Homo sapiens: one gene and its partners. The protein of the gene in region 5 interacts with the protein of the main gene of each other region in a pairwise test. Each region holds a gene or a part of one and is shown on either strand. Other genes may lie near its edges. The genes, in order: TRIM73, ATRIP, FXR1, ZNF76, TASOR2, CCDC33 and CCNG2.

The links.
Region 1: the proteins of TASOR2 (region 5) and TRIM73 interact in a two-hybrid assay, tested with the Homo sapiens proteins (one large-scale study listed by BioGRID).
Region 2: the proteins of TASOR2 (region 5) and ATRIP interact in binary tests that used the Homo sapiens proteins (3 or more experiments, as listed by UniProt).
Region 3: the proteins of TASOR2 (region 5) and FXR1 interact in a two-hybrid assay, tested with the Homo sapiens proteins (one large-scale study listed by BioGRID and IntAct).
Region 4: the proteins of TASOR2 (region 5) and ZNF76 interact in binary tests that used the Homo sapiens proteins (3 or more experiments, as listed by UniProt).
Region 6: the proteins of TASOR2 (region 5) and CCDC33 interact in a two-hybrid assay, tested with the Homo sapiens proteins (one large-scale study listed by BioGRID).
Region 7: the proteins of TASOR2 (region 5) and CCNG2 interact in a two-hybrid assay, tested with the Homo sapiens proteins (one large-scale study listed by BioGRID).

The regions. Positions count from the first base shown.
Region 1 is NC_000007.14:75,394,284-75,398,428, reverse strand, and holds the start of TRIM73 (tripartite motif-containing protein 73), read right to left. Parts: upstream 2,801-4,145; 5' UTR 2,619-2,800; intron 1-2,618.
Region 2 is NC_000003.12:48,453,237-48,456,736, reverse strand, and holds part of ATRIP (ATR-interacting protein), read right to left. Parts: intron 2,438-3,500; coding exon 2,319-2,437; intron 1-2,318. UniProt on the Homo sapiens protein: Required for checkpoint signaling after DNA damage. Required for ATR expression, possibly by stabilizing the protein.
Region 3 is NC_000003.12:180,964,670-180,968,169, forward strand, and holds part of FXR1 (RNA-binding protein FXR1), read left to right. Parts: intron 1-3,381; coding exon 3,382-3,500. UniProt on the Homo sapiens protein: mRNA-binding protein that acts as a regulator of mRNAs translation and/or stability, and which is required for various processes, such as neurogenesis, muscle development and spermatogenesis.
Region 4 is NC_000006.12:35,287,235-35,290,734, reverse strand, and holds part of ZNF76 (zinc finger protein 76), read right to left. Parts: intron 3,113-3,500; coding exon of another isoform or gene 3,090-3,112; coding exon 2,890-3,089; intron 483-2,889; coding exon of another isoform or gene 470-482; coding exon 353-469; intron 95-352; coding exon 19-94; intron 1-18. UniProt on the Homo sapiens protein: May be involved in transcriptional regulation.
Region 5 is NC_000010.11:5,757,838-5,761,038, reverse strand, and holds part of TASOR2 (protein TASOR 2), read right to left. Parts: intron 2,153-3,201; coding exon 2,047-2,152; intron 1-2,046.
Region 6 is NC_000015.10:74,242,826-74,246,325, reverse strand, and holds part of CCDC33 (coiled-coil domain-containing protein 33), read right to left. Parts: intron 2,342-3,500; coding exon 2,178-2,341; intron 1-2,177.
Region 7 is NC_000004.12:77,160,207-77,163,706, forward strand, and holds part of CCNG2 (cyclin-G2), read left to right. Parts: intron 1-514; coding exon 515-765; intron 766-1,273; coding exon 1,274-1,352; intron 1,353-1,442; coding exon 1,443-1,541; intron 1,542-3,500. UniProt on the Homo sapiens protein: May play a role in growth regulation and in negative regulation of cell cycle progression.

The DNA of each region.
Region 1 (4,145 bases), on a different chromosome or scaffold from region 5:
TGAGACCCAGAACTCTACACTTATAGGTGACACTCCCAGGTAATTCTAGAGAGCCTGGAACCTACAAGGCCTCTACCCTGATCTCCCACCTGCTCCCCTATGAAAGCTTGTCAGTGAGACAGAAGAAGCACCAGAAGCCCCCAGCGAGAGCCCGACATTGGAATACCTAGCTTCTCAGGATCCACTGGGCCTCCCACTATGGCCTCAAGCCAGCATCACTGGCTTTTCTTCTTCCCAGCAGGGAACAGCAGGCACAGAGTCAGAAGTGGGAAGTGCAGCTGGACGCCTGCACCACTGCCTGGTCTCTGCCCCTTCTCTCCTCCCCTTCCCCAGCAACACCCCTGTGTCCCCAAGGTCACCAGAATCAGGTGGAAACTGGGTTACATCACAGGACTGGGGAGGCAGCCTTTGTTGGGCCTGCTCTGATAACATTCAAGTGCTGGCCTTGGCCACTGTGGAGGAGGGGCAGAAACAGAGGGACTGGGTACACCGTCCACACCTCATGACCCCAACAGGAGCAGATAGGTGCTGGGAAACAGTTCTTTCTGAATCTCAATCTCTTGCTCTTATATCCTTTTTTGGGGGGGGTGGGGGGCTGGGGGGCAGGGGAAGACAGTGTCTTGCTCTGTTGCCCAGGCTGGAGTGCAGTGGCGTGGTCACAGCTCACTGCAGCCTCCAACTCCTAGGCTCAAGCCATCCTCCTACCTTAGCTGCCTGAGTAGCTGGGACTACAGGCACATGCCACCATGCCAAGCTAATTTTTAAAATTTTTTTTGTAGATACCGGGTCTTGCTTTGTTGCCCAGGCTGGTCTTCAACTTCTGGGCTCAAGCAATCCTCCCACCTTGGCCTCCCAAAGTGCTGGGATTACAGGCATGAGCCTTATTGCACGCAGTCTTCCTTCTCTCTCTCTTTTTTTCTAATACAAACTGGCAGATGATGGTTCGATCTCTCGAATTTTTTTTTTTATTTTATTGTTTTATTTACTTTAGTAGAGACAGGGGTCTCACTTTGTTGCCTGGGCTGGTTTTGAACTCCTGGCCTCAAGCAATCCTCCTACCTCAGCCTCCCAAAGTGCTGGGATTACAGGTGTGAGCCGCCGAACCTGGCCTCTTTTTTTTTTTTTTTTTAAAGATTTGAAGGTATCTTTATTTACTTATTTAGATTTTTTAAATCGAGGTATAACATATACAAGTGTGCAAATCTTAACCACACAGCTTGATAAACACTTGATGTATATACGTGCACTCTCAAGAGCAAGATGTACAGTGTTTCCAGAAAGCTCCCTCCTGCCTCCTTCCAGTCATAACTCCTAACAAGGACAGCCACTGTCCTTATTACCATGTTGTCATGTGGCCTGTTTTTGAATGTCACATAAACAGCATCATATAGAATGTACCCTTTTGTGTCTGGTTTCTTTCACTCAATAATATTAAATTGTGAGTTTTTTTTTAATGTGAAGTCTTTCAACGTTTAGAAATTCAATGACACTCTGTTATACAGGTTTTGTTTGTTTGTTTGTTTATTGAGACAGAGTTTTGCTCTTGTTGCCCAGGCTGGAGTGCAGTGGTGCAATCAGGCTCACTGCCACCTCCACCTCCCGGATTCAAGTGATTCTCCTGCCTCAGCCTCCCAAGTAGCTGAGGTTACAGGCGCCTGCCACCACACCGGCTAATTTTTTGTATTTTTAGTAGAGAGGCGGTTTCATCATGTGGGCCAGGCTGGTCTCAAACTCCTGACCTCGAGTGATCTACCCACTCTGGTCTCCCAAAGTGCTGGGATTACAGGTGTGAGCCACCGCGCCCAGCCTGTTACACAGTTAATGAATATTATGGTCATAATATACTGCTGTGGTTTGAATGTATCCTCCTAATTTCATGTGTTGGAAACGTAACCCCCAATGGGGCAGTATTGAAAGTTGGCTGTAGCCTACGCCTATAATCCCAGCACTTTGGGAGGTCAAGACTGGAGGATCGCTTGAAGCCAGGAGTTCAAGACCAGCCTAGGCAACAAAGCTACAAACCATCTTACCAGCAAATTAAAAACTAAAAAATAAATTAGCTGGGCCTGGTGGTGCACGTCTGTAATCCCAGCTACTTGGGAGGCCGAGGCAGGAGGATCTCTTGAGCCCAGGAGGTGGCGGCTGCAGTGAGCTGAGATCCATCACTGAACTCCAGCCTGGGCTCAGAGCGAGCCTCTGTCAATCAATCAATCAATCAATCAATCAGTGTCTTGTCTGGGCCTAAATTCTCTAGAATACAATGGAAGAGGGAAAGTGAAAGAAGGTGGAAGTAACCCACAGCTGGGAGCCCTGAACCCTGCTGGTGGCAGGTGGCTCTCGTGTCCTCACCAGGTTGCCCTGCAATCACATGCTGCATCCTTTTTCCTGAACCTGCCCCACGTGCCCCACCACGCAGCCACTCCGAGGGCTCCTTCAAGGGCGGCAGCCCTGTCACTCACGTGTTCCAAAAGTGCTTCCCCTGTGCCCTGACGGCCTCGCCATGTGTCCCATCACGCCCCACGCGCTCCCACTGTGCGCCCCACCTCGCACCCGTGCCCCATCATGCTCTGCGTGCTCGTTAGGTGCCCCATCATTTCCCGCTCGCTCTCATTACGTACCCAGCCTCCGGCCCCTGTAAGTGCCCCATCGTGCTCTCTGTCGCTCCAGTTAGATGCCCCATCCTGCCCCGCGAGCTCCAATTACGTGCCCCACCTAACCCCCCATGTCCGTGCCCCATCATGCCCCGCACGCTCTGGTTACATGCCCCGCCTGGCGCTCCCGCACATGCCCCATCATGCTCAGCGCGCTCCCATTACGTGCCGCCACCTCGCGCCCCTGCAAGTGCCCAATGTGCCCTGTGTGGTCCCGTTACGTGTCCCATCATGTTTTGTGCGCTCCGATTACGGGCCACACCTGGCAACTCACCGTGCGACCTCTGTAGTTCCAGAGCTCGCGAGGGCCAGGGCCGTTGGCGGCGGTTGGAACGAAACGATGAGTGCCTCCTCGTGGCCCCAGAATGTAATGCCGCCGTCGGTAGGGGTCTGCCGGGCATAAAGGGGCCTTCGGAACCCCACCAGAGTCACAGCCAGGAAGGGCAGCGGGGCGCACCAGGCCGAAGGCTCACGCCACAGGGAGGGCAGCTAGGACATGGGGGGAAGCGCGTTAAACCAGGGAGTCCTGGAAGGGGACGACGCCCCCGGCCAGGTGAGGGCCCAGACGTTTCGGGGGCGTAGACGCTGAGGGGTGGCCGGGTGGGTCTGCGGCTCTGAGGCCTGGCTTTCATTCTCCATCAGTCCCTGTACGAGCGGTTAAGTCAGAGGATGCTGGACATCTCGGGGGACCGGGGCGTGCTGAAGGACGTCATCCGAGAAGGAGCTGGAGACCTAGTGGCGCCTGATGCTTCGGTGCTAGGTACGCCCTGGGGCGGTTTGTCCGCAGGATCCATGTCATCGCACTCTGTTGGGAAGAGAGAGGCCTCATTTTCAAAAAGCATTTAATGGGGTTGGAAATGCTTTGTTTGAAGTGGATTTTTGTTTTTGAAACGGGGTCTCGCTCAGTTCCCCAGGCTGGAGTGCAGTGGTGCGAACATAGCTCACTGCAGCCTCTGCTTCCTGGGCTCAAGTGATTCTCCAGCCTCAGCCTCCCAAATAAGAGATTTACAGGCGCAATCCACCATGCCCGGCTAATTTTTAATATTTTTGTAGAGATGGGGCACTTTCTATGTTGCCCAGGCTGGTCTCAGACTCCTGGTCCCAAGTGATCCTCCCACCTCAGCCTCCCCAGTAGCTGGGATTACAAGCGTGAGCCGCTGCTTCTGCCATGAATTAGTTTTTTTAAGAGGAAAGCTAAGGAACCCTATGTCCCCTTTGCGTGATGCTTCCATGAAGCTCTTGAACCTCTGAGCCGAAGGGTAGGCTCCTAAAATGCAGAGAGATTTATTCCTGTACCTCGTGGTGTCGGGCAGCTTAAGCTCATCTGATCGCATTGTTTCTGTGTGATCATGAGAGACTCGATATTATGGTGGCGTGGGTGTTTTGGGTCCATTTTCCTTACATTCTTTCCTCTATTCTAGTGAAATACTATGGATACCTGGAACACTTGGACAGACCCTTCGATTCTAATTACTTTAGGAAAACTCCTCGGCT
Region 2 (3,500 bases), on a different chromosome or scaffold from region 5:
GTAGCATGATCATAGCTCACTGCAGCCTTGACCTCCTGGGCTCAAGCAATCCACCCATCTGTAATCCCAGCCTCCTGAGTAGCTGGGATTACAGGCACACATCAACATGGCCAGCTAATTTTTTTTTTTTTTTTTTGGTGAGACAGGGTCTCACTCTGTTGCCCATGCTGGAGCCCAGTGGCACAATTACGGCTCACTGCAGCCTCCACCTCTTGGGCTTAGTGATCTTCCCACCTCATCCTTCTGAGTAGCACAGGGACTACAGATGTGCAACCACCACATCTGGCTAACTTTTTATTCTTTCTAGAGATAGAGTTATTTCTAGAGATAGAGTTTCACCATGTTGCCTAGGCTAGTCCTGAACTCGTGGGCTCAAATGATCTGCCCACCTCAGCTTCCCAAAATGCTGGGATTACAGGCGTGAGCCACTGGGGCCAGTAATTTTATTTTTTTTTTAAGTAGCAATGGGGTTTTGCTATGTTGCCCAGGCTGGTCTCGAACTGCTAGCCTTAAGCAATCTTCCTGCCTTAGCCTCCTGTGTAGCTGGGATTGCCTCTGTAGCTACCATGCCTGGTGCAAAACATCTTTTCAATGTGGAACAAACTATTTTTTTTTCTGGAATGGAGTCTTGTTCTGTTGCCCAGGCTGGAGTGCAGTGGTGTGATCCTGGCTCACTGCAACCTCTGCCTCCAGGTTTGAGTGATTCTCCTGCCTCAGCCTCCCAAATAGCTGGGATTACAGGCGCATGCCACCATGCCCAGCTAATTTTTATATTTTCAGTAGAGACAGGGTTTCATCATGTTGGCCAGGTTGGTCTTGAACTACTGACCTCAAGTGATCTGCCCGCCTCATCCTCCCAAAGTGTTGGGATTACAGGTGTGAGCCACTGCACCCAGCCAATGTGGAACAAACGATTTTTTAATAGTCACAAGACTTCCAGGCTGGGCACAGTGGCTCACCCTTGTAATCCCAACAATTTGGGAGGCTGAGGTGGGTGGATCACCTGAAGTCAGGAGTTCGAGAGCAGCTTGGCCAACATGGTGAAATCCCATCTCTACTTAAAAAAAAAATACAAAAAAACTAGCCTGGTGTGGTGGTATGTGCCTGTAATCCCAGCTACTTGGGAGGCTGAGACAGGAGAATCACTTGAACCCGGGAGGTGGAGGTTGCAGTGAGCTGAGATCATGTGACTACACTCCAGCCTGGACAACAGAGTGAGACTCTGTCTCAAAAAAAAAAGACTTCCAATAGAATGCAAAGACTTTAAATAGAAAAAGGGCTATCAAAATAAATATCATAATTTTGATAAACCTACTAGGTATGTTGAAAACTGAGCAACTTAGTGCCAATGTCTTTATGGTAGAGAAGCAGTATTAACTCTCTGATCTGATCATATAATGCTGAGGTCTTTCTGTTACTGATGTGTGAAGAGGATCCCCTCAGTTCTCTTGTCTTATGTGGACAATGCAAGGCATGGAGAGTTCAGTTTCACACACTGCCCATTATGAACAAAGGCGGTAGAAAGTTCAAAACCAGAAGATGCCCTGACTGACACTGTTCAAATTTCCAGGCTGCGCCAGGCACAGTGGCTCATGCTTGTAATCCCAGTAGTTTGGGAGGCCCAGGCTGGCAAATCATTTGAGTCCAGGAGTTTGAGACGAGCCTGGCCAACATGGTGAAACTCCGTCTCTACTAAAAATACAAAAATTAGCTGGGCGTGGTGGTGTGTGCCTGTAGTCCCAGCTACTCAGGAGGCTGAAGGAGGAGAATTGCTTGAACCCAGGAGGCGGAGGTTGCAGTGAGCCGAGATTGTACCACTGTACTCCAGCCTGGGTGACAGAGCGAGACTCTGTCTCAAAAAAAAAAGAAAAAAAAAACAAGTTGAGCACATCTGACCACAAAGGATGGGGCTGTTGGACAAGGGTCCCCAGAAAGCAAATGAGAAAAAAATATTCCAAGTAGCTGGAACTAAAATACACCCATGCTTGCAACAAAATCAGTTAAACAAATTACATAAAAGTAGAGACTAGCCCACCCCCAAAATTTGGAGATCATTTTTCCAGGTCTTTCTAGTCCTGAAGAATTATGTTTATAAAGTGCCATACAGAGGCAGCATTTCTAGAGTATAGGCCTTTATGCTGTGATGTCTCAAACCATGCAAGCTTCATCTAAACCACCTCTGAATCCTTCAGGAAAAGAGGATCTCTGCCCAGGTGGAGGGGTCTAAATGGCCTTCATTTAGGACCAGCCTGACACTGTTATGCAGATTTTTTACTAAATAATGCAAAACTGAACTATCCCTCCAGCACCATCATTACCTGACATGGGAAACAGAGGGAGCAGCCAGTTTATTTGCTCGTTCACTGGTCTGGAGCTTTGTCCTTAATTCATTCATCTCTGCATCTTTAAACTGGAGTTCAGACTGCAATGATTGGAGCTGGAAGGCAAAAGAAACATGCTTGTAGTGGTCCCATCATATACACAAAAATATCTCTGGGCTTCAAAATCACAAGCCAGTAAAAGACAAACAATGAAAAATACATATGAAAGTCTGCTGTGACATAAATGTCCTAAAATATTAAACATTAGCTTTCTTTCTGAAAGACAATATGGTACTCTAAAAAGATACTGGACTCTATTGTAAGGGTAGTTTGTGAGGGTTTAAATACCAGCCCTGGCCGGGTGTGGTGGTTCAGGCCTGTAATCCTAAGCACTTTGGGAGGTTGAGGCGGGAGGATCATTTGAGCCCAGGAGTTCGAGACCAGCCTGGGCAAAATAGCAAGATCTTGCCTCTACAAAAAATTTAAAAAATAAAAAAAAGAATTAAATACCAGCCCACCATTTATTTAATGTCTTTGAATCCTAACTTATTTGTAACATAAAACACCTGTCTTCATGATAGTTGGGAGGATTAAGTAGAATGATGAGTGTAAAATACCCAGCATAGAGCTTGGTAAGGTGCCCTATGTCAGCAGTAACATATTGACCTTTATTAACGAACGCACTGGTGCACAATTCCAGGTCTTCCTCAAAGTTTGGGCAGAGTAGTTGGAATAGTTTACCAAGACACTGTGCAGTATAGAGAGACCTGCTGCTCTGGCCTGCAGTTGCTACAGCCAACAGTAACTGCCATCATTCCCCAAGCACACTCTGCGCCAGGCCCAGCACCAGACACAGTAAGTGCAAGAATGTGTGAGTCTCCCAACAACCTTTCTGGTTATGTCTTGGAACAGATAAGGGAAATGAGCCAGGGAGCTTAAGTTATTACCTTGAGGTCACTGCTTATGTGTGATGAAGCCTGGATTCAAATTCAGGTTTGTCTGACCGCAAATTCCTTGCTCTTCATCACTTATACAGAAAGTTAACTATTGCGGTTAATGATGGGCACAGGTAAGTGCTTAAAGTTTGCTAAGTTTGCTGAATGAAACAATGAGAATAAGATCCCATGTCCTTGAGATTGAAGCATGAGGAGGTGCTGAGGGAAAGTTGTAGTAGGTACT
Region 3 (3,500 bases), on a different chromosome or scaffold from region 5:
GATTTATATATATATATATATATATATATATAATGAGTACTGTAGTTTTATCAGTTTAATAGGAACTATAAGAAACATTTCCCAGTATAACATCTCTGAAGTTGGTATGTGTGTTAAATTGGACATCTTACAACTTTAGCAGCATTTTCTTTTTTAATGGCACATAAAATAATGTCTTAAAATTGATGGCCTCTTGGAGTCGATAAAACGTGATTATTTTTAGCTGTTAAGCTTAGCACAACCAACCATTGAAAAATGATATAAACCATCTTCATAAGGTGATTTTAGAAGTTTGAGGGGAAAATATGATTTTAAAATTGGTTAAAAACACGATGTCATTATGTTTTGTTACTTTTTTTTTTTTGAGACGGAGTTTCGCTCTTGTTGCCCAGGCTGGAGTGCAGTGGCACAATCTCGGCTCACCGCAACCTCTCCCTCCTGGGTTCAAGTGATTCTCCTGCCTCAGCTTCCTGAGTAGCTGGGATTACAGGCATGCACCACCATGCCTGACTAATTTTGTATTTTTAGTAGAGACAGGGTTTCTCCATGTTGGTCAGGCTCGTCTCAAACTCCAGACCTCAGGTGATCTGTCTACCTCGCCTCCCAAAGTGCTGGGATTACAGGCGTGAGCCACCAGCCTGGCCTAGTGTCATTACTTTTAAAGCTTGTTTAAAAAAACGACTTTGAATCACCAACCTGTGTTTTACAAAATTGAGAGGCTGGAATAAATGGTTTCCCTGATTTTATTAGAGTATTTGTTTTCTATTGCAGTAATAAATTATCACAAACTTAGAGGCTTGACCACAGAAATTTATTATCTTATAGTTCTGTTGGTCAGAAGGCTGACATGGGTCTCACTAGGCTAAAATCTTGTCAGCTGGGCTACGTTTCTTTCTGGAAAGTCTAGCGGGGATTCCCCTTTCAGTAGTTTAGAAAATTTCTCTACTTTTAAAGACCCAGTGAGATTAGTTTGGACCCACCTGGATAATCCAGGATAATCTCTCTATCTCAAGGTCCTTAACCTTAGTCACATTTGCAGAGTCCTTTTTGCTATCACAGAAACATTTAATATGTGTTATTAACAGTTATTTAATATGAGTAATGTTGAGCACTAGCCAATACATTAAAATTTTGGGGGGTACGGCCTCAATATCTGTTTTACCTGCTGAAATCTATGATTTAGACATTCCCTCTAAGTCTCTTGAATACTATATGTAGGTTAAATTTAAGGAAGACTTTACTTGCTGTGACACGGGGTTAGATAAATACTACACTGGATTTCTAAGGATACTTCAATATGAACTTTTGAGAGAGTCTTCAGAATGAAGTATTCTTCATTTGCCCTGAATTTTGGTAATGTTTTCAGGTAGGGTATAGGTTTGTAAATAAATTCAGAAGTTCTTAAACATTCTGAAAGGCTTTTTTTTTCACTATTCAAGGAAAGATAAATTGCCTTCATTACAACTTTTATGACATCCTGTTAATAAAGTACTTTTTGTCATTTGGTGAAATAAATGTTAGGGGAAATTAATTCCCTTCCCTGAGATTCTAATCCCAACAAAGAATTGAAAGTGAGTAATAGAAATTTGATGTATTCTTTGAAAAATACACATCCAACTAATTACCTAATTGTTTTTATAATTGACTAGTTACATCTATTAACACCATGTAGAGAAAAGGTAGGCATCCTAGAGTTATCGTTAAAGGAGAAAGGAAGTGAGGCACCTTCATGTATAAAACTTTACATTTTATTCCCTGCACCTTAATACTTAAAACTTCTTATGTCTGAAGAGCTCTTGTTTGCATTTTTCCTCAAATGATTGCAGAGTTTAAATATAGGGAACTTCAAGGTATTTCATGAAATCACTCTTATCTGAGAGTTTAGCAAATGAACTTCAAAATAATGCAGCAAATTATTTGGTTGAGAAAATTGTTATACACTCTGCCAGGCATTTGAGGACATATAAGATGGAGTTCCACCCTTTATCATAGACCAATTTTGAAGTAATTCCACAGGGGGAAAAAATAACAACATGGCACAGTCTGTGATAGATGTGGGGCGATTTTAGGATAACAAAAAATGGGGAGAGATCTGTCTTAGTTGCAGTGGTCTGAAGTTAGAATTTGAACTAGGCCCTGAAGGAGATATATTTGGTCATATAAGAGGGAAAGAAGAAGTGGCATCCCAGAACTAACAAGTGGAAATGAATATGATAGTGATTGAGTCATATGTATCTGACATTTGAGTTACAGTAATTATTAAATAATGATAATGTAGGCCTCTGATTATATCTTTGTGGTGTTTAAATAAATTTTTGAAAGGTCACCATTACAATAGTTGCAGTGTTAGAAATGGTCTGTAAACTTTTAAAGGCAATGCTGAATATTTGTCTCACTGGTCATGGCTTCAGTTCTGTTGTCAGGTGAGAGACCTTCTGTTTCAGAGAAACCTTAAATTCTGTTTAGTAATTGCAAATATTAGGTTGGTGCAAAAGTAATTGCAGTTTTTGCCATTAAAAGTAAGAAAAGCAAAAAGTAAAAGTAGTTACTTTTAATGGCAAAAACCGCAATTTAAGATGCTAGTAAAACATGCCATCATTTTATATACAACCTACTGGAAAAATTACTTCTAGCTTATAATAAAGATGCCATCAATTATAAGAAATATCTTGATTTCAGAGATGTTAACATGTGAAAAGTATACCCTAGAATCAATGAAATTATGGTGAAATACACTATACAGTTAAACTATTCAGTTTTCTAAATATGATTAATTTACTCAAATATTGAAGTTATTTTTATTGTACTAATAATTTAGGTTACTAAAACCCAAATCAGCAGAAACATTTGACTATCCATACTAAGTACATTCTAATATTGATAAATGATGTTCTGTATGGTTTTTTTTTTTTGGTGCCAAAACCTAGGAATTAATGTTCTGTATATTTTCTGTAATTTTTCTGTTGACTGCATTTCTGCACATCAGTTTTTTTTTTAACTTCCATGACTTTGTATTTCCTGGATATTATCCCCTTTTGCTGATGAGATGGTCACACCTTTGACTATATTACATGACATAGCACATCTTAGCAGACTGCAGTGAGGGATTCTTCTGCTGGTTTTGAAGAAGTGAGCGGCCTTCTGCACATCAGTTTATTTTTTAATCTGTATTAACTAGTAGATACTATACTAGTATATTAATAGTATAATAATTGATTATTCCTTAGTACGTTTCAGATTGATTTTAACTTTCATGGATCTTTCTTTGAAGCAGCCAAACAGTATTGCTTATTTAAACAATAATTTGTAGGACATAATTTTGAACATTTTAAAAGGCTTTTTATAGAAATCTAAGTGGTTTATGTTCTTTTCTTTTCCAAGGTACAAATTCTGAGCTGTCTAACCCCTCTGAAACGGAATCTGAGCGTAAAGACGAGCTGAGTGATTGGTCATTGGCAGGAGAAGATGATCGAGACAGCCGACATCAGCGTGACAGCAGG
Region 4 (3,500 bases), on a different chromosome or scaffold from region 5:
GCCCACCAGGCAGGTTACCTGTGGCAAAGGCCTTTCCACAGCTGGGGAAGTCACATCTGTATGGACGGTCACCTGTATGAGCTCGTTCATGCACCTGTGAGGACAAGCAATCACATAATTCAGAGGAGCAAGGGTATGACCAGGGCTCTTTGGTTTTCTTTAGGACCCTGATTCTCTTCCCTCCTGTACCATTCATGTGTGTCAAGCGCTCTGTGCTGGCATTCCTGTGTACCCTCATTTCTTCCCTCCAGCAACGTGAGGGCAGGGACCAATTCCAATCAAAGCAGAAAGGTAGAATTACAGCCTGGGAGGGAAGACTGCAGAGCTGACGGCTGTCTGCCAGCAACCTTACCTTTAAGTGATGAGCGGTGGTGTAGAGACGCCCACAGCCCTTGTAGCCACAGCGGAATGCTCTGTCTCCAACTTGCTGCCCTTTTCCATTACGGGGAATCTGGCTGTCATGAAGAACCTGGGGGAAAAGTCTTGAGATCCCTATATGTATTCTCCCCAGTGAAGAAGGTGGGACACAGGGCCCTGCTGGCAGCTTAAGACCCAACAGGCAGGGTTAAACCTGTCAGGGGCCTCTGGGGCAGAAGAACATAACTAGACGGACAAGGAACAGATGCTGGGGCATGCTACAGAAGAAACAGGGTGGGCATGGGGAGTCACCACCCATCTCTGATGGGATAAAGGGAGACCTACAGGTCATAGTGGCTGTGACGGCTATTGAAGAAAGGCTATCACATAGACAGCTAGGTAAGGTGAAAAGGGAGGTTGTCTGAATGGCCATGCTTGAACTGGACCAAGTGCCAGAAACCCTCCTTCTAAGCACACACACCTAGGAGCCTGCAACTCTCAAGACCTCCATCTTCTGATGGGAGGGGTCCCCTTCCTCCTGGCACGAAACTAGTGCTTAAAAGTACATAAACAAGGGGGCTTGCTGTGGAGATGAGCTCACCTAGGTTCATCTGATAGGACTTGGGGCCCAGAGTGAGGTGGCCACGACCAGAAGCACCCAGGGGAGTGCTGCAGTTTCCACCAGAAATGTCAGCTCTAATGACAGCACCCAGCTGACAAGTCCTCCCCTTTTGTCTCCTCTTCTGGGATATTGCTAAAGCCACCCATCTCACACCAGCCTCTGGATGCAGGGAGCCCTTATTGCTCTTCTGCTTTCCTGGGCAGGGTCCTGGTGGGACTATCCCTTAGTCTTTCTTTCTAGAATGCTTCAGAATCACACTCTGGTCTTTCCAGGAGCTCCTGAAACTGAACTCTACAAGTTACAGTGAGCAGGGGACAGAGGGGTGAGGCCAAATTCATGGCAAGGTCTGTCTAGTTAGGCTCCAGCTCAGAGGCTCAAGCAGCTGAGAGCTTCACGGACACTTAAACAGCTTCTGGGTAGAGGGTAGGGTCAGAGGTGGCCTGACCTGCTTGGCGGGCTAACCCACACAGGCACTTGGATTTCATTCCATGTCTCACTAGCTCCTGGGGTAATCACGGGAATCAAGGGACATCAGGGATGGAAGTGACCTCTGAGATCATCTGGTCCCATCTCATCATATTAGGAATAAGCTGAGGTCGAGGAGAGGAGGGACTCACCCAAGTTTGGACTAGGTAGAGGTAGAGCAAGCATAGATCTCAGGGCTCATGATTTAAATAAAACCCACTTCTCTTTACATCAACATCGAGTCTCAAATTTGGTCTCTAAGATATACCTCAGGGAACCTGGGTGGGAGTGAATGTAGCCTACTGTAAAGTTTTGTGACTTTTTTTTTTTTTTTTTTTTTTAGATAGGATCTCCCTCTGTTGCCCAGGCTGGAGTGCAGTGGGACAATCTCAGCTCATTGCAGTCACCGCCTCCTGATCCTCCCACCTCCGCTTCCCAGTAGCTGGGACCACAGGTGCGCACCACCATGCCCAGCTAATTTGTTTTTGTATTTTTGTGTAGAGATGAGGTTTCGCCATGTTGCCCAGACTGGTCTCAAACTCCTGGACTCAAGCGATCCACCTGCCTCAGCCTCCCAAAGTGCTGGGATTACAGGCGTGAGCCTCTGCTCCCGGCCTGTGCTTCATTTTGAAAAGACATGAGGACTTCCTTTTTTCCTCCATCATTCAGTCACACTGGTTTCATTATAAATAAAAAACCTCCCCCATCTTCGGGTAAAACTGCTGGAAGGAAGGAACGTGCAGGAAGCCCTGGCACATCCAGCCTGAGGCTCTGTAGTCATTCCAGGAAGGGAACACCCTGGTTTGGAAAGCTCAGAGATGTCTGTACCCTTTTCCCCACATGCAGGACCATGGTTTCGGCAGAAAGAACTTGGACTGACTGGTATTTGCAGAGCCAGGACCCTTTTCCTTTCCAGCTGAGCTACTGTGTGGGCCTCATAATCCAGGAATCCCAGCTGTTCTGTTGCACATGCCCTTGTCATAGCCCACTGAGGTTAATTTTCCAAATGACTGAGTCACAGAGAAGAAATAAATACAATTACCTCAGTGGACTAGAAAGCTAATACAAGTCACTGGCAGGGCTTTCCCAGCTAGTGCAGAGGATTACTACAGCAGCCAAAGTGAAGCTGGGCCTAACTCCTCAGCATAAGGATGCCACTGTTTCTTATGGCAGCTTTCCCTCTGCAAAGACAGCGTAAACAAAAGTGAGCGTAAACAGCTGTCAGCGGCCAGGCCAGGCTGTGTTGCATGCCCTAGACAATGATGTGTGACAGGTGAGTTGGGGGAGCTGGGGTGGAGGGGCAAAGGGAATATCCCACATGGTGCCCAAGCACAGGGCTGCCCTTGTCCTCTTGAGAGGTGAAGTTCTGGCAGGGCCAAGAGGCAGTGCGCAGGCCAGGCCCGGTTGTCTAGAGTGACAGACCGTGTCACGCTGTGCGTGCTCACCTTGCTGGCATACTGCTCCAGGGCCACCACTGCGTCTGCACTGAAGCCCTCATCATCCTCTGCTGCCAGGTCCTCCAAGCCCACCTCTGTCTGTACGGCCAGGATGGTGCTCTCCGATGGCACAGCCACAGGGTGGTGAATGTAGGCAGTGGAGCCATCTTCCAGTTGGACGGCTTCCAGGGTGCTGGGGTCATAGCCTTCTGCAGGGAACACGCGGTTAGCCCTGATGCCACACAAGGGGAAGAGATACAGCTGGGACCCTAGCTTTAAGTTAATGAGAGATACATATACCAAGGAGGGTTTCAACATCCAATTTCTCATGGCCCTTCACTTTGTGATTCACTCTTGCTGGCCCTCCTTCTGCAGCTGTCTCACCTAAGGATGAGGTCTCCTATGGTACACTAAATGGGAACTCACAAGCTCCTTGAGGACCTGACAGGGGCCCATCATCATTTTGGCTTAGATGACCACAATAGCCTCCTGACCAGTCGCTCCTCACCCCCTCTAGTTCCCTCCAGGCAGCACAACATCCAGAGGGATCTTTGCGGGACACAAATGTGACCATGTCACTTAACTGCCTCAACAGTTTAAATGCTTCCCACTGGTCTCAG
Region 5 (3,201 bases):
CTTGGCAAGCCTTTCATGAATTTCGAGTGGGCCTTATTGCGTTGTATATTTGTAGAGCAATGCACATCTATACTTCTCATACCTTGTGGGCAGATAATCGCCAACTTCATTAAAATTAGGTAGCAGCCAGAATTTTCTTGGTTTCTTGCTTCCCTGAAAATTCTATCACTACTAGGAAAATGTGTTAACTCAGTATGTTTAAATTTTTAGCATTTCTGTCTCTGCTCGACTCCCGTCTCTCTAGTTTTCATCACTTACATTCTCATGCTTGTTGGAGAAAACCCAAATCACACCCATTCCCATAACCCTAGTGATAATCACTCTTAACATCATGAATTAATTTCCTTTCACTTTTTCCTGTATAAATTTTTTATGACATCATACTGAACATAGTTACATGATACCAACTTTTATGCCATCCCTCTTTCTATGAATAGAAACTTTTTACATGCTTCTATTGTGTAAGTTTTGGGTGGGCATTATTTTGTATAAACTTTAAAATATTTAACTGTAGTCTGCATATCTCCCTCCTAGAGATGGAACTGAGGTTGGTTTTGCAATGACTGATAACCACCTAGAATTTTGGGTAAATTCCACAAAAGGTCAAAGGATATGAAGAGTTTTCTAATGAGTTCTCAATAATACATAACGCCTGTTACATAATGCCAGAGTGGTATAATATGAAGAGCATACTGCAGCGCCAACAGCAGTGAGTACGGGCATGTACCACATAATGATGTTTCAGTCAATGACGGACCACATATACAATGGTGGTCCCATAAAATTATACTACTGTAATTTACTGAACCTTTTTTGTGTTTAGACACACAGATACCACCATTGCATTAAATCTGCCTACAGTATTCAGTACAGTCACATGTACAGGTTTGCAATCTAGGAGTAGGCTCTACCATATCAGTTTGTGTAAGTACACTCTATGTCTGCACATAGACAAAATCGTCTTATGACGTTTCTCAGGCTGTATCCCCGTCGTTAAGTGACATGACTTTCTCTACCCAAAGCCCTAGAAGTGCTAGATTGATTTATGCTTATTTTATAGGTGTGCTGTGGTACATCAGAACCTTAAATGTGCTTCTCTACTTACCGAAGTTGACGTTTTTCCCCTCAAGTGCTGGTTACTGAAGTCCGCTGTGAATGGTCATACCCTTGACCTGCTGAAGCCTTTGCACCCTCCTTTCCTGCCAAGGAAACCTCTGTGCTCCTTCTCTCCTTTGCTAGCTCCACTTCAAGAGAAAAGCTTTCTGAGATTCTGTTCCTCAAAGGTCACATACAGCTAACAGTCGTTTCGTCTTTCTGGGATTGAAACCCAGCTTCATAACTTACTACTTGTTTGACCTTGGTCATGTTTGTTATCTACTCTGCTTCAGTTCTGCATTATAAAAGTGAGGATTTGCTATCTAGCTCCTGGGGATGAAGTCTGAATGAAAATGGATGCACCTAACAGTGCCTGAAATCCTTATTTCACAAGGGCTTGTCAGGTCTGCTTTTCCAATTGGTCCTGCTTGTGAGAATGTGGAGGAATCTCTCAGCCCCAGCTCTCTTCAGCCAAGGAATCAAACATGTATTTTTTTCTTTTATAAATTACAGCTTTAGACTTAGTGAAGTTTGCGTATTTATAAGCCTCTTCTTTTAGGGTACAACTGAATTAAGGATAGATTATGGTCTTAATTTTTCCATTCTCCTTAAAGTGGTGGCAACTTATAAGTATCCAAAAAAGCATTAATGGTACAAGTTCCATATATTTTTTAAAGTTTGTAGTAGTAGGGCTTAAATAGAATATGGACATTTCATGACTGCTAAGTTTGACTCCCTTACTTCTGTTAGTCTAGATAAGTACATGCCTCATACTGTTGGCTACGGTCACAGCACATAGCTTCCTTCATTGAATACAGAGCCAGCAGCCCTCATGCTCTTTACTGATGAAGGCCATTCCACTGCAGCACTAGGCTAGAGCCCATGGAACATGAGGCGTTTCTCTGCTACCCCAGCAGGGCAGGAGGAACCATACACACAGCAAGTCCTTACCTTTCATCTTCTTTTAGCTTTTTATTTTCCCTGTAGTGAAGCAACCACTTCCATCTTCCATTTCCATTTAGTTTTTCCAGGATTTTGATAATTTCCTTCAGTTGAACTACAAAACAATAAATGTAGCAAAAGAAGATGACAAGTTTAAGGTACTTTTGGCTCATGCCAAGCCCAGTGATAATTATTTGTAAAACAAGAAAAAAACAGACTAAGACCCATGGTTGAGTACACACCATCACTGTCACTTATGTGGTTGGGCAGCATCCTGCTCTCACAAGCCCCTCAGCCTGGTCCCACCTGCTCACACTATGGTGGGAGATAACTCTGTAGACACGAACACAGTGGAGTGGTCACCAGCAACTAGAGTTCTGTGTACAAATTGTGTGACAGAAGAGAAGCAGGAGGCCCCGATGCAGTAGAGAAATGAAGTTTCTAAATACAGAATCCTTTTTTTTTGAGACAGGGTTTCGGCTGTCACCCAGGCTGGAGTGTGGTGGCATGATCTCAGCTCACTATAGCCTCAACCTCCTGGGCTCAAGTAATCCTCCATCCTTAGTCTCCTTAGCTGGGACTACAGGCACACACTACCACAGCTGGCTAGTATTTTTATTTTTTGTAGAGATGGGATCTCACTATGTTGCCCAGGCTGGTCTTGAACTCCTGATCTCCAGGGATCCTCCTGCCTTGGCCTCCCAAAGTGTTGGGATTACAGACGTGTGCCTACAAATATTTAAAATCCCAGGTTCTGTGTAGAAGTCACACTGGTTAAGGTACATGCTGCTTTTGATCTAGAAGTGGTATCACTTCCAATGTGATCAGAGCCGGGGCAGGTTTTATACATAAAAGTGCCCTGAGAGAAGTAAAGTATGAGTTTTCAAGTAGATGATTAAATAAGCTGACTTAGTAGCCATTTTTTAGATTTTTGTGACATCAAGATGGTAGGGGTGTTGACATCAGAAATGGAGAAGGTTGACTTTAAGCAAACAATTTAATATGGAGCTGCTCTGACTTGGCAAGTGAAGAGACTAAATATAATAAAATCCTGAATTTGTGTTACTAGGAGCTTAGCTGCACTACCGAGAGGGAGGGAACTCAGAAGCAAGTGTGGTGGTAAGAATCAGTTAAAAGAGGTGAAAAGCATTGCTATAAGAGAAT
Region 6 (3,500 bases), on a different chromosome or scaffold from region 5:
CAGTCTCACTTATTTTTGATTCTGTTGCCTGTACTTCCGGTGTCATATCCGAAGATTAATTGCCAAGACCAATGTAAAGGAGCCTTTCCCCTGTGTTTTCTTCTAGGGGTGTTACAGTTGCAGGTCTTACATTGAAGTCTTCACAAATACATATTTTTAAAAAGCATTGAAATATTCATCATGAACAAAACGAAAACTTTCATGAACTTTCTTATGCCTATTGTGTGCTTTGTTACTTGTTTATTTGTAATCAGATGTGCAGGGATATAAATTCTTTCCAGGTTCTATGGCCTCTGAGGGTCTGGATCCTCCCTCTGGGGTTTCTGCCTGGGGCTGGGGGTGAGCACTGAAAGCCCCCTTCAGGTCCTGACAGCTCGGCCTTCACATTCTCAGAAGCCCTTCCTTCTCCCATCATTTGCATCTCATTAGCACCACCTCGAGCTGGTGGCAGCTTCGCCTGTCTGGAGCCCTGGGACGCAGGCTGCAGCCTGGCCCGGGCGCTGCTCCCAGCTGGAGAAGGGTGCAGCGAAGTGCTTTCCCCTCCCCCCTCCCCGCGTTCTCTGTCCCCACCCTCCCGCCCCACGTGCCGCAGCCACAGGGAGGGTGCAGGAGGACTCGGGGTGTGCCCGGCTCTCCGAACCCCCACCCAGGCTCGTGTCGCCTAGGCTCCTGCCGCGCGTTCCCATGGCAACCGGGTGATGGCGCGGGTCGCGGTGCCTGCCTAGGAGCCACACAGCCACCCAGCTCCCCGCCCCGCCGCCCAGGCCGGATTGGTGACAGTCAGGGCCTCAATCTCCCGAGATGATCGGCGATAATTGGTTTATGGAAATAGCTGAGCGGAGAAGGCGAGCTCCCCGCTAGAAACCAGCCTCCCTGCCAAGCCTGCTCCCACCACCTGTGCTTCCCTCACCACGGAAATGGAGTTGGGGGAGGGATGGCCGAGGAGCTGGGCTGGCACAAATGGGGCTTTTAAGGCAAGTGTTTCACCTGTTGCTCTCGGCACAGCTTCTACCCCCCTTTCACAGTGGGGGCCCTGGGGGGGCAGGGACTTATCATAGTAACCAGGTGTTGGCCTCAGTCACTCCTTGGCTCCTAAGTTTGGGCTCAGGCCTATGTTGGATGCATTGTTGAGGGAAATGGAGGAGGAGATCCGTCCTCAGGGAGCCCCAGAGGAGTGCATAAACCATGTTGATATAAAGTGCTTCAGACCAGGGTCACCACTGCTGTGGAGCTCCAGAAGAGGGAGAGCTCAACTCTGGTGGCTGCCTGGAGGAGGAGGCTTTGAAGGCAGGATTTCAGCAGGCATTGGTGAGTGGGCTGGGGCAGGCACTCCCCAAAAGGAAATGTGGGCAACAGACTCTTGGCAGGAACTGAATGGTGCCAGTATTGGTGGGGGAGGGGAAGTATAGGGTGGCTTGGTGGGAGGCCACCAAGGCTCCCGCCGTCTGTCTATAGAAGGTCTAGGGGTGACATGCTCCTTGGAGGGTGCTTTATAATAAAGATTGAGCAAATATTCAGTGTCCCCAGCGAAGGTTGGCTGGATGGAGATTGTGTTGCCCCTTGGCGCCTTTCTGGAAGAAGTGAGACCCGTGAGGTGGGCATAGACGTGGCGTGGCAGGCCTTGGTGCCAGGCTGGGGAAGTGTGTACCCTGACAGCAGCTGGCTGGAGGGGGTGTGTGGGGTGCATTAAAGGCCCAGAACTAGGGGAGTCCCCATAATAGAAGTGACTGGAGAAGGAGGGGAGGAGGGGAGGGTGGTTATGAGGACCCTACCCCAGGGCTGGGTATGGTGGGGTGGGGCACCCAGAAGTCAGGAGAGGCAGGTCCCAAATCTTCCCCTTCCCCAATCTGACCATCATGCCCATGAGCCCAGCCCAGACTTTTGCATACAAGGAACCTGCCCCACTGGAGCTGAGCTGTGACCAATCCCTGCCCCACTGGTGTGGGGTGGGGAGGGGTGACTCTCTGGATCCGTTGGCACCCTGTCTTCCCCAGCCCTGGTGAGCAGCTTCCCATGCAGCAGCGGAGATGCCAGGTAGTGCCCACAGCAGCTCCTCCCCTCTGGGTATGACAGTCCCAGTCCTGGGCCTTTGGGTGCTAGTATTCCAAATAGCTGTCCCCTGGTTTCTGCTCACAGCCCAACCCATCCCCTGCCCCCACTCTCACGCAGCTACTTACACCACCACATAGGGCCACGGCTCGGAGCCATCCTTGCAGGCAGGCAGGTTGGTAGCCCCATGGAGGGTGACCATGATGGTCTCCTTCTTAGAGGGAGACAGGTGACCGATCTCAGGTTCCGTGCTCTGGGAGGCGATCAGGGGCTCCTCTGGGTCTTCAGTGTTCTGTGGGGAGAGCCAGGGCTGAGTGTTTTTTTTTTTTTTTGAGACAGAGTCTTGCTCTGTTGCCCAGGCTGGAGTGCAGTGGTGCCATCTTGGCTCACTGCAGCCTCTACCTCCCAGGTTCAAGCAATTCTCCTGCCTCAGCCTCCACAGTAGCTGGGATTACAGGCATGTGCCACCACATCCAACTAATTTTTGTATTTTTAGTAGAGACGGGATTTCCCCATGGTCTCAAACTCCTGACCTCAGGTGATCTGCCTGCCTCGGCCTCCCAGAGTGCTGGGATTATAGGCATGAGTTACTGCACCTGGCCCTGAGTGGCCTCCTCTGCTGCGGCACCTCCCTTCACTGCCACCCTCTAGCACTAGCCACTCACAGCTTCCGTCAAGTGCCTGCCTCCCTCTGTCACCCTTCCGCCCACTCTGCAAGGCAGTCGCCTTGGCCCCATTTTCTCCCTACTTCTGTCCCCATCCCACGTCTCTCTCAGTGCCTCTCCTCTAGTCCTGGATCCTACCCTTCCTGCAGGATGAGACAGGCCACCTCACCTTTCAAGTCTGGTCCCACTTCTAAGCCTTAGCTTTCGCAGGTGTCCTCGTCTGTAATTCCTAAATCCCACCTGCTTTTGCAGTCCTAACAATGGGCCACCTTCTTCAGTCTATCTTGTAACCTCACCTCAGCTCACCCATCACCTCAGGTCCCTCCTGTGCACAGCACTTTACAGCTGACAAAGCTTCTCCACGTTCATGGGGGCATTCAGTGCATTACGTGGAGGTGAATGCATGTGTCTGTCCCAGATGCCCCACCTGTCTTCTACCCAGGAAACTTGCGGACTAGGGAGGAAGAGGTGCCTGCCCATGCAGGGGGCTTCCTACACCAGTTGCCCCAAGCAGGGACTCAGCAGCTTAGTAACTTGTGGATTCATGGCCCAAAGGACCATCTTAACGAGAGCTGCTGAGAGAAGACAAAGCCCTGGCCGGCTGAGGCGGTCAGGGAAGACAGCAGGGAGGAGGAGGCCTTAAAGGGTTGGGAGAAGGTGCAGGAGTGGAGTCAGGGAGGACAGGCCAGGAGCAGAACACTGGAGCGAAGGCAGCAAGCGGGAAGGGGCAGAGCTTTCCAAGGCCCAGAGGTGGCTCAGTTTGACTGGGGAGGCAGTGGGGACTCA
Region 7 (3,500 bases), on a different chromosome or scaffold from region 5:
AAAAAGCTTAATTTATTTTGGGAGAGATTATATTATGAATTTCATAAGTCTGAAATACAAATTATACTTTAGTGCTAGGAATCTAGCTTTTGAACCTGCATGGAAATTTTTGTACCTGCATTTGAATTTACATAATTTAAAGGTTCAAAAAACTTTTTTTTTTTTTTTTAAATAGAGATGGAGGCTTGCTGTGTTGGCCAGAATAGTCTTGCTATGTTGGCCAGAGTGTTCTCAAACTCCTGGCCTCAAGCAGTCCTCCCACCTCAGCCTCCCAAAGTCCTGGGATTACAGGCATGAGCCACTGTTCCCTGCTGCCTTTTTTTTTGGGGGGGGGGGGAGGTCGAGAACGTCTAAAATGTGAAAATGTGTATAATTGTGGGTAAAGAGCCAGTACATATAAGAGAAACAACTTGATTGTGTTCTGTCTTAAGAATAGGAGCATCATTACAATATTCTAAGTATCTGCTAAGTCAAAGTGACAGTTGTTAAAAGAAGCCTCTTGTTTTTTTCTCAGGTGAAACCTAAACATTTGTCTTGCATTGGAGTCTGTTCTTTTTTGCTGGCTGCTAGAATAGTTGAAGAAGACTGCAATATTCCATCCACTCATGATGTGATCCGGATTAGTCAGTGTAAATGTACTGCTTCTGACATAAAACGGATGGAAAAAATAATTTCAGAAAAATTGCACTATGAATTGGAAGCTACTACTGCCTTAAACTTTTTGCACTTATACCATACTATTATACTTTGTCATACTTCAGAAAGGTCAGTGGGATTAAAGATACATTTTGTACTTTGAACATTGCTATAGCTAACAGTAAATAATTGGAATGGCAATGAAATTTATATTTTTACCTTCTTCAAACTTTCAACTTTGACTTTATTGGTAAATCTTTTTTTTTTTTTTTTTTTGGAGAAGGAATTTCGCTCTTGTTGCCCAGGCTGGAGTGCAATGGCGTGATCTCGGCTCACTGCAACCTCCACTTCCCGGGTTCAAGCGATTCTCCTGCGTCAGCCTCCCAAGTAGCTGGGATTACAGGCGTGCGCCACCACACCTGGCTAATTTTATATTTTTAGTAGAGACAGGGTTTTTCCATGTTGGTCAGGCTGGTCTCGAACTCCTGACCTTAGGTGATCCACCTGCTTCTGCCTTCCAAAGTGGTGGGATTACAGGCGTGAGACACCGCGTCTGGCCCTGGCAAATATTTAAAATCATTTAAAATCATTTAAATCTTTGGAAGTTTAATAAATCTTTGTTCTTTGCATTGTATAGGAAAGAAATACTGAGCCTTGATAAACTAGAAGCTCAGCTGAAAGCTTGCAACTGCCGACTCATCTTTTCAAAAGCAAAAGTAAGTCGATTCCTTGCTTATGTATATATCTCACAGTTTGTATTTTGAATTTTTAAAAAATATTTTTCTTTTTTTTCTTTTTTCTTACAGCCATCTGTATTAGCCTTGTGCCTTCTCAATTTGGAAGTGGAAACTTTGAAATCTGTTGAATTACTGGAAATTCTCTTGCTAGTTAAAAAACATTCCAAGGTAATTACAGTCATTATTCTTTAAGGCAAATTTTTTTCCTGATGTTTATTTTTTTCTGTGGTGACTTAAACATTAAGTAATACTTTATGGGACTCTTAACTTTTACACTTGTTTTTTTTCTTATATCTCTAGTGTTAAAGTTCTCAAAATGCAGCTTTGACCCAGACAGTATTAATCCGGAAGGGAACCTGGTCACTTAGCTCAGCTTCTTTCTGCATATAGGTGCCCCTTCTGTAGTAATCATGCCATATGATAGTACAGCTGTTACATTGCCACATATGCATTGTTCTGAAATGCATACTAGGTAGTAGACTCAGAACAAACACTAATGGGATAGGATGGGATCCCATCACACCTGTAGGACTGAACTGTCATCCCATTAGCAGCAGCATCAATTAACACCAGCAATGTTGATGTTTTAAACCCGAATGTCTTTTCAAATCCTTTAGGCCAGCTAAGTAAAAGTAAGTCTTACCATCACAAAGAGATATAAAACAAAAGCACAATACTTTTTCTTAAACTCTCAGTCTAGTTGGGGAAATGAGGAACTTAACATGAAGTGGTGTGTTCTGTCATTTGTTATTGTGTCTTGGTGCCAGGTAATAGTGAATATAGAGAGTACTTTGGGATTTTTTTTTTTTTTTTTTTTTTTTTTGAGACAGTCTTGCTCTGTTGCCCAAGCTAGAGTGCAGTGGCATGATCTTGGCTCACCGCAACCTCAGCCTCTCGGGTTCAAGTGATTCTCCTGCGTCAACCTCCCGAGTAGCTGGGGCTACAGGTGCTCACCACCATGCCAGGCTAATTTTTATATTTTTGGTAGAGATGGGGTTTCGCCATGTTGGCCAGGCCGGTCTTGAACTCCTGACTTCAAGTGATCCCACCTGCCTTGGCCTCCCAAAGTGCTGGGATTACAGGCGTGAGCCACTGTGCCCGGCTTACTTTGGGTTTTTTTTAAGCAAAGAAATAGGGCAGACTAGGAGAAACACTATGACTGGGAGCCTGTTTGGAGCAAAAGAATCTTTGACAGTGAAAGTTTCAGCGAAGGCTTAACGGCCAAGAAATTGGTGGACTAGACAGATATAAAAGTCATTTTAGGGTAGACTTACAGGTACAATGTCTAGGTGGTAGTCACAAGCAGGAGTAAGGCTGTCCAACTCAAACAGTGGTTTTGGAAGCCAAGCATGGAAATGAGGCAAGGAGTCTTGAATGACCAAGATTTGTACCTAATGGTGGATATAATATTAGCATAATTGGCAGGAAATTTGGGAGAAGTTAATTTGTGATGAGAGCAATATGATTTTAGATGCTTGTGTACACAGGTGGGTGTCTAGTAGGTGTTTGGCGTTTTGGAATAAGAAGATAAACTATAGTTAGAGATTGAGGTTTGGAATTTCTCATGAAGAAGCAGTAGTTGAAACGGTAAGAAGCTGTGGAATCCTTTTTGTAGGGGTCAGTTGAAGCTCTGGGGTTTTCAGCGTTGGCCTTTCCCCCCAACATTAGGAGCCAAGTGAAGAAAGGTACATCCCCACAAGTAGAAGCACTGTCAGACTGGAAGGAGGTTTTTAAGGAGGTGGTCAGGAGTATTGAATTTTTATAAGAGATCCAATATAATGAAAATTGAAGGTCATTGGGTGTGTCAGAGGTAATGTCAGTAGAGCAGTGAGAAGGAAGTGGTAGAAACCAGATTACAAGTGGGTTAGGATGTAGCTACATTAGGTGAAAATGGGAAGCCAAGAAAATAGATCTTCTGTTTTCTGGTGAAAATATGTGCATGTGAAGCATTTTGTTTGTAACAGATAACTTTTTGCTTTAGTTATGATTTTATTAGTTTTTATCTGAACTTTTTATTGATAGTGATAGCTGGAACCATCTTCAGTGAAAATTGATTCGTTGAAATAAACTGAAGGCATTCCGAAGGAGGAGGGAAAAAAATACGTAAAAAGAAAAACAAAAAAGAAA